Linked DNA regions of Homo sapiens. The protein of the gene in region 1 purifies or fractionates together with the protein of each later gene. This does not show direct contact. Each region holds a gene or a part of one and is shown in the gene's direction. Other genes may lie near its edges.

What was found.
Region 2: the proteins of ZNF32 (region 1) and NRDE2 purify together in Homo sapiens (affinity purification with mass spectrometry; one large-scale study listed by BioGRID and IntAct). This does not show direct contact.

The regions. Positions count from the first base shown.
Region 1 is NC_000010.11:43,645,786-43,650,261, reverse strand, and holds the start of ZNF32 (zinc finger protein 32), read left to right. Parts: upstream 1-1,380; 5' UTR 1,381-1,460; intron 1,461-1,462; exon of another isoform or gene 1,463-1,677; intron 1,678-2,242; exon of another isoform or gene 2,243-2,693; intron 2,694-3,052; exon of another isoform or gene 3,053-3,150; intron 3,151-3,964; exon of another isoform or gene 3,965-4,059; 5' UTR 4,060-4,128; coding exon 4,129-4,198; exon of another isoform or gene 4,199-4,222; coding exon of another isoform or gene 4,223-4,304; exon of another isoform or gene 4,305-4,320; intron 4,321-4,476. UniProt on the Homo sapiens protein: May be involved in transcriptional regulation.
Region 2 is NC_000014.9:90,328,838-90,333,279, reverse strand, and holds the start of NRDE2 (nuclear exosome regulator NRDE2), read left to right. Parts: upstream 1-1,338; 5' UTR 1,339-1,375; coding exon 1,376-1,439; intron 1,440-4,442. UniProt on the Homo sapiens protein: Protein of the nuclear speckles that regulates RNA degradation and export from the nucleus through its interaction with MTREX an essential factor directing various RNAs to exosomal degradation.

The DNA.
Region 1 (4,476 bases):
CTATGTACCCTTGTGTGAAGCAGAGGCCGCAGCCTTAGGACTCTGAGCCTTGGCCTTTGCTGTGTGCCGCCCTCCACCCCTTTCTCAGACTTGGGAGGAGTGAGGAGAGGAGCCACCTGGGGCAGTTCAGGAATGGGGAGCTTCAGGACAGTTTGCACCACACACTCTGGGACTTAGCTGTGCAACACCCCGACCCCCATGTGAGGAAGGTGGTGTTTGTTTGCTCCACCAGACTGTCAGCTCCTCCCTAGGAGCACGGAGTGTGTCTTGCTCACATTCGTATCCCCAGTGTCAGCACTTAAAATGGATTCAACGGATAAATGTTGAATGAAATTCAGAAATGATGTGCAATAGTAAAAGCTAACATTTAGGAATCAACTTATTACTTACAGACACCTTTGCATATTGAGTGAAATTAAGTTGTTTGATTTAACAAATCTGTGGCTTTGGGGTAGAGAACAAGAACATAGCAAGAGGAAGCATTCTTTATTAGTCCTTCACGAAAGAGGATGGACAGACACATCTACGGAGAGGGGCTCCAGAGGCAGGGACCCAGAGATACACCCGGCCAGGCAGAACAGCTCCAGGATGTGGCCCCGATCCTGGAAAAGTGCGTTTAAAAGAGGCTTAAGGCATATCAGACAGCCTGGCCAACATGGTAAAACCTTCATCTCTACTAAAAATACAAAAAAATTAGCCAGGCATGGTGGCACAGACCTGTAGTCCCAGCTACTTGGGAGGCTGGGGCAGGAGAATCACTTGAGCCCAGAAGGCGGAGGTTGCAGTGAGGCGACACCGTGCCACTGCACTCAAGCCTGGGAGACAGAGTGAAGGAAAAAAAAAAACAGGCATTATTAGAGAGGCTTTATCTCCTACGTGTTCAAAAGCAACCATGCTCCTCCCAGTATCTCAGGACGACTGGACTGCCTGTGTTCCTGTTGCTCTTCACAGAAGCTCCATGAAAGCGGGCTTCGCTTTTGTTCATGCAGCCAGAGGCTCAACACATGACCTCGAAGCCGCCAAGGCTTTATCAAACGGATTTCTCCCAAAAACTTCGTTTCCTTCCGCGACGCCCTGCAAGAACCCTGTATTCCTGAGTCCCTGGCTCAGCGTCTGCTACCCCGATGCTGTCAATCAGATCCTGCTAATCTGAGCGGCCGTGGCTCCGTCCCGGCTCCGCGTCCGCTGACAGGTCACCGCTGTGAGTCTCCGGATTACCAGTCCAAACGGGACGGCTTGAGGTCCCCGCGCCCTAGGGACCTGCGGGGCCCGAGCGCAGGGCGCGCCAGAGAACTACATTTCCCACAGAGCTCTTGGGAAGCCGGGGCCGCCGAGACCCACGGCCCGGCGGGCGGGCTCGCGGGGAGACTCCTGGGAGTTGTAGTCCATTCCGCCGGCGCCGGCGCTGGCGCTGCTGCGGGCTCGGCGCCGGCCTTTGTCTGCGGGCACGCGCCGCTGCGGTGAGTGAGGCCGCTGGCCGGGTCAGAGCGCCGGGGCAAGGCGGGGCTGCGCCATCAGACCGCTGTCCCGGGCCCTCCGTGTGGCCGCCTTATGCCAGCGGCCGCCAAGGAAATGAGCAGGCCTGGCCGGCCCGGGCCCCGAGGGAGGCCAGCCGCGAGCGGAGAGGTCGGCGGTCCGCAGAGCAGGGTCCCGTGGACCGGAGAGCGGGATGCCGAGGTTCAGGACGCAGGGCGGGCCCGGTGCCCGGGGCCCGGGGCCTGAGGCGGGAGGGCAGCGTCTGCGGAGAGGAGCAGGGCCCATGGCGTCGGGGCGTGGGAGGGGGAGGCCGCGGCAGGCTCACCCGGCCTCCGTGCGGGCTTCAGCGAGTGCGGGAAGCCGGTGCCGGCCTTCCGGGGTGGGAGGAGAGGCAGCCCCTGCGGGGGAGAGTAGGAAGCCAGGCAGCGTGTGGGAAACCACGCTACCCACAAGCTCCTAAACCTGAAACTGGCCCCAGGACATTTTCCAGACCGCCAAGTGTACCCCTCTTCTCATCCGCCCTCCAGAGGACGCCGGATTTTAGATCTTAAGTCTGGTGGTCTCGTCTGATACTCCTCTTGTTTGGTTCTTTCCTTCTCATTGTCCTACCTGATAGGACAGTGTTAGTAACCTGTTTAATAAGTGGGGAAGCAGAGTCAGGGCTGCTGGGTTACTCGCCCAAGATCATATCCTGGGGGAGCCACGGCAAGAAGCCAAGACTCACGGACTACTTCTAAGCTTTTTCCAAAGGATATAGTAGCCTTTCTAATAGGAAAATCAATGTTTTTAATTATAAAGCCACTTTTACAAAATCTTGGGGAAACTGCTTCCTCAGACCTGTGATCTAGGGAGAAAAATATGACAATTTCTCCCTTACTAATCACGGAGGTCCCTGATAGGCGGCGGAGTTGTAACTTGAAGACCTCACAGCAGGTGGAGAGGCAGAGCTGTGAATTCTACTCTAATTTCTGGAATCCCCGGCGACAGAGTCCAACCCCAGGCAGCAGGCGCCATGTACCCCAGGGACTTTTAATGTGTGTGCAGCTGTTGAGCAAGAATACCTTGAACTTCCAAATGATGTGCTGGCATGCTGGTAGGGAATTCCTTTGCAGCTTGTGTTCCAAGTTGGAAGTGAGTCCTCCAAATAAAAATTTAAATGATTCTCCTGGTCATCACAGCATGTAGCAGAATGTGCAGTTGTCAAGAAGAACCAGGTGCTTAGGTTGACAAAACAAAGAATGGTAGCATCATACTATTATTTCATTAAATCAGAAGGCCAGCATTTTGATAGGACAAATTAGAGGGAAACAAGGAGTATGCATTGAACCACTGCATTTCTTAAAAGTATAAGAATTCAGTAATTAGGATCCTGAAGTAAGAAGAAATATTTTTTTTAAAAAATAGATCATGTGGGCCAGGTGTAGTAGCTCATGCCTACATGTCTTGGGAGGCCGAGGCAGGAGGGTCACTTCAGGCCAAGAGTTGGAGACCAGCCTGGGCAGGATAATGAGACCCGATCTCTACAAAAAAAAGTTAAAATAATTTTTAAAAATTAGCCAGGCTTGGTGGTGCTTACCTGTAGTCCTAGTTATTTGGGAGGCTGAAGTGGGAGGATCCGTTGAGTCCAGGAGTTCAAAGTCACAGCAAGCTGTAATTGAGTCACTGTACTCCAGCCTGGGCAACAGAGCAAAATCTTGACTCAGAATTTTAAAAAAATTAAAAAATAATTTAGAGCACATACAAGAGGATTCCTAGGATCTGAAAGAGCACTTCAATCTGGTCAAACTCTCTTCCTTTCTGTTCAATTTTATAAGCATTCTGACCAGCTCTTTAGTGATTAGGAACTAGACAACTGTCTAATGTAAGAGCATACATTTTGGATCCAGAAAGTCTTGGATTTGAACCTTTGCTCCACTTTGACTCCTTATTTTCTGTGGGTTTCTGGGCAAGTTACTTAACCTAGTTGGAGTGCCTTGGGCTTGGAGTCCAGAGTAGGTCTTTCTTTTCCAAGAATTGACAAGTGTTTACACTTGGTCAGAACTGGTATTCTTGTATCTTCAAGAGCAAGAGAAAGGCGAGTCTGGGTCTGGAGCCTCCTAAGAATTGTTCAGTGGTAACAAATGGACTCTCTTGTTAAGTCTTTGTAACTACAGATAACTGGAGAGCTGATTGGCTCCAACCAATCATGAAGGCTGAAATGTTGTTTTCTTAGATTCTGAATTCCTCTGGGGCTTGGAGGGAAGAAAGTAGTAGGTGGTTAGGTGGGGAACCAAAATGGAAGATCCCAATTACATGCCAAGACCAAAGTGTAAACAGGAGTGACTATTAACTTGGGATTGGCAGGAAGAGATATATGTTTATGTGTTCTCTGCTTTCCCACATCCTGCTTCCTCCTAGACTCATTTGTGTGTGGTCCTGGTACCTTTGGGCCCATTTTGCAGTGATATTTTAGTAACTGACATTATGTCAAACAATCTAGGTTTCTTACATTCACTTATGTCTCAACAACTGTTGACTTTTTCCTTCTCACATATCAATTATTCTGCCCTTTCCTGTTTGTTTCTGTTTGTTTTTCTCCCTCAGGTGCTCAGGAACAGCCCATGGAAGAATCATATGAAGAGGTGGTGACTGAGGTCGTAAGCAGGAGTGGACATGTTTGGATTTCCAACAGCTACCCTGCTGGACTGTCATGGAAGATATGCCCAGAATGTAGCGTTCTTCAGTGAGTGAGTCAGTTGATGGCTGGATGCGCTCAGCTCACAGATATTCAGTGTCCCTGTTCTCAGCACTGGTCGGCAGTCTGAGGAAGCAGAGGAGACCTTGCTTTGGTAGAGCTTGCTGTTCCTAGGGTTATAAGAAAAGCCTGTGAGCTGGAGTTAGAAGTAATAGTAGAAACAGAGCAAGAGAACCATCTTGATATGGAGGTAGCGTTGAAGTAGTCTCTGAGAATGAATGAGCAGCTTAAATCTCAGCACTGTCTCTGAATAAGGCAAGGGAACA
Region 2 (4,442 bases), on another chromosome or scaffold:
CTTTAAAAAGTAATCTCAGGCTGGGTTGGGGGGTGCTCAGGCACAGGCACCCAGCACTTTGGGAGGCAGAGGGGGGCAGATCGCTTGAGCCCAGGAGTTCGAGACCAGCCTGGGCAACATGGTGAAACCCTGTCTCTATTAAAAAAAAAAAAATTAAGCCAGACATGGTGGTGTATGCCTGTGGTTCCAGCCACTTGGGAGGCTGAGGTGAGGGGATTGCTTGAATCGAGGAGTTCGAAGCTGCAGTGAGCAGAGATCGTACCACTACACTCCAGCCTGGGTGGCAGAAGGAGACCTTGTCTCAAAATAAATAAATAAGGGTCACCTCAGTGACATAAGTACTTTAGTACATCTAACAGAATTCACAAGAATTACTTGTGAATTGCTTGTACTCTGCCTACCTTCTTATTTCTCCATCTATCTTAAAAAGGTCTTTTTACAGTTTGTCCAATCAGAATTATAATGAGGCCACAAATATGTTGTATTTGCTTGATGTGTCTGTAAGATCTTCGTATCTATTACAATCTCCTGCCCTCTTAAAGCCCTTGATATGTTAAGGAAGCACGGTTGTTTTCTATAATTTCCCATATTCTAGATTTGGCTAATTGTTTCTTGGTAGTACAAAGTCTTCTAAGTTGTTCCTTTACTCTCTATATTTCTGGTAGCAAGTGTGATTAGATTTTGGGTGGGAGGAACCGGGGTCAAGAATGCTTCACAGACAGGTATTTCCTAACTATCAAAGACCCTTGAACTTGATGGGACTTTCCATTTTTCCTTGTTCTGGGGTATTTAATATGGTAACCTGATTGAAGTTCGGATATCTCACATGACTTTGAGCCGAACTTGCAGTCGTAATTCACATAATAGCTAACACATATTAAGTGCTTTTCATGGGCCGGACTCAATGCTAGGCCCTTTATAAATATGTTCATTTAATCTTCTCAATATTTTGCAGATAAGGAAAGTAATGCTTAGAGCGTTTAAGTTGACCCAGTTAGCAAGGATGGTGTGAATTTAGGGGTCGAACTGGAATCCCAATTTCCTTAGTCCCTTTCGCGGTCAACAATTCCCTTCTCCGGTTTTCGCAGTTCCGGTTCTCACAGGGTCCCAACCACTAGGAACCCGTCACTCCTCGCTCCGCCCCCCTTGGCCCCGCCCCACCCTGCTTTGCCCTGCCTCTCCCTGCCCCGCCGCGCCCCAGTCCCTTGACGACCCTCCTCTCTGGGCCCCGCCCCTCCCGCTTCGGGGTCAAGCCCCAGAGAGCGCCGCGAAAACCACATTTCCCAGAGTGCACCGCGACGGCAGGGGTCCTCAGACCGGCGCTCGCTCGCCGGCGCCATCCCTATAGAGAAGAACGGAGGTACGGCCTGTGGTCATGGCGCTGTTCCCAGCCTTTGCGGGGCTTAGTGAGGCTCCCGATGGCGGGAGCTCCAGGAAAGGTAAGCACACAAACGAGCCGAAGAAGGCACCTGGGGGGCTTAAGAGGCTGTTTCTCGGGCCCAGGTCTAGACTTTTGCTTTGGATTTGTGTATCCATTTGTATCCCAGAGTTCTCCGCGGCGCTGCAAAGCCTTCTGGGAAAGGCTCAATCCCTCCGAGGTCTGGGGCCCAGAGGCCTGTTCTGGACCAAGGTTGTAGAGTTATGGAGGGGTGGAGAAAGACCAGCAGATGCCCTGGAGCTGGGACTTCTGTACGATGTTGTTAGGTCCTGTTCTTCTTTTCGAGCCTCAGTTACTTCATCTTTAAATTGGGAATAATGATACTCGACATCTCGAGGAAACCCTTGATGCAAATGCAGAATGTTTTTATTACATATTACTTCCTTTCCTGTTATACTTATTTCTGAAATGCTTATTAGATTGGTATTACTTAGCGGCCTAGAGCTAGGGGATTAGTATCCAAAACCTAATCAGTTTCTCTCTGGAGGGGCACAGCACCCAGTGAAAATAACTAACATTTATTCTTGAGGGCCTAGTGTGTATCAGGTTATGGCTTTACACATTTTACTTAAGTCCCAGACATTTCCAGCAGAGCTGCATTGTTCAAAATTGGGGTACATAGTTCATTTAAGAAGTAATTAATCCTGGCCAGGAGCAGTGGCCCACACCTGTAGGTGGAAGGATAGTTTGAGCCCGGGAGTTCATGACCATCATGATCAACATAGCGAGACTCCTGTCTCTTAAAAAAAAAGCCAGGCGTGGTGGTGCACACCTATAGTATCAGCTCCTCAGGAGGCTGAGGTAGGAGGATTGCTTGAGCCCAGAAGTTTGAGGCCGCAGTGAGCCATGATCGTGCCGCTGCATCCTGCCCTGGGGTGGGGGGACCTTGTCTCTAAAAAAAAAAGAAAAAAAAGTAATTCTAAATTATGTGCCATATGTGACAGGGCGCAATTGAGTCTTACCTGTCTGTTATATCCTCTAATATAGTTCCTACACTTTCTGTAACGTTTCTCCTAATTTTTTTTTTTTTTTTTGAGACAGGGTCTCACTCTGTTGCCCAGGCTGGAGTACAGTGGCACTGTCATAACTCACTGCCGCCTCAGACTCCTGGGCTTAACTTCCTGCCTCAGCCTCATGAATAGCTGGAACTACTGGTGTGCACCACCAGGCCTGGCTAATTTTTTTTAATATTTAGTAGAGACGAGGTCTCACTGTGTTGACCAGGCTGGTCTCGAACTCCTGAGCTCAAGCGATTCTCTATCTGAGCCTCCCAAAGTTCTAGGATTACAGGCATGAGCCACTGCGCTTGTCCTATTTCTCATAATTGTGAGTAATTTCTTGTGTAAAATTGTTGTCTTCCCTTACTAGACTGTAATCTCTATCAGGTTGGGCAGTGTTTGTCTATTCATTGTAGCATAGTTAGCCCCTAGCACAGGTCCAAAGTATAATAGGTGTTCAATAAATATTTTCTGGATGTACAGATCGATAGTAGTTACTTAATAATTACGTGTTGCAGGAATGCATGAGTGCACCTAAAAGAAGTGTATAGTACAAGGTGGGATATTACAGATACCATAGGTGAACTGCAGGATTAATTACTTCTTTTTATTTATTTATTTATTTATTTTTTTTTTTGAGACCAAGTCTTGCTCTGTCGCCCAAGCTGGAGTGTAATTGTACGATCTTGGCTCACTGCAGCCTTCGCCTCCTGGGTTCAAGTGATTCTCCTGCCTCAGCCTCCCGAGTAGCTGGGACTACAGGCACTCACCACCATGCCCGGCTAATTTTTGTATTGTTAGTAGAGATGGGGTTTCACTGTTTTGGCCAGGCTGGTCTCGAACTCCTAACTTTAAGTGATTCGCCCACCATAGCCTCCCAAAGTGCTGGGATTACAGTTGTGAGCCACCACACCCAGCCCAGGAATAATTACTTCTAATAGAAGGTTCAAAGAAGGCTTTATGTAGGAACTAATATTTTTTTCTTTTACTTTTTTTTTTTTTTTTTTTGAGGCAGTCTCACTCTGTCACCCAGGCTGGAGTGCAGTGGCACAATCTCAGCTCACTGCAACCTCCGCCTCCTGGCTTCAAGTGATTCTTGTGCCTCAGTCTCCCGAGTAGCTTGGATTACAGGCATGCACCACCACACCTGGCTAATTTTTTGTATTTTTAGTAGAAATGGGGTTTCACCATGTTGGCCAGGCTGGTCTTGAACTCCTGAGCTTAGATAATCCGCCCACCTCGGCCTCCCAAAGTGCTGGGATTACAGGTGTGAGCCAACGTACCCAGCCTACTTTTTTTTTTCTTAAGTAGGGACAGGGTCTTGCTATGTTGCCCAGGCTGATCTCAGACTGCTGGGCTCAAGTGATCCTCCTGCCTCAGCCTCCCAAAGTTCTGGAATTACAGGCGTGAGCCACTGTGCCTAGCCAGGAGCTAAGTTTTGGATGGATCTTCAAGAGAGTAGGATTTGGACAAATAAAATGGGGGAAGTGTATACCAGGGCCTTCAAGTCCTGCAGAAGAAAAGTGTGAGAACTGCAAATCATCTAGTTTGTCTGGAGGTGTAGTGGCATAAAGAGGAGCCTTGGGAAATATGGTTGGGCTGGTGGTGATGGAGGATAGTGATCTTTAATAACATGTCAAAGCTTTATCCTTTTATTTTGAGAGGGGGAAATCGAACTTTTGCAGAGGAGTCTTACTCTTAAATAGTATTTATTTGACATCCTCTGGATATCTACAATCAGGAAAATGTGTGTAAAAGTATGTTTTATAAAGTATTGTCTTTTGAAAAAATATAAACACAGCATCATCTCTTGTAATGGAAAAAAGCCTTAATTCTTTTCTGGTCATTTTCACTTACCAGTCAGTGTTCAAATTTCACGAGATGTTTCAAAAATGGGATTTTACAGTTGGATTGTCCAAGTCAATTTCCAAAATACAGCCAACATTGCATTTTGTGGATATATGCCTTAGGTCTCTTTCAGTATAAATCGGTTTCTTCCTCTCCTT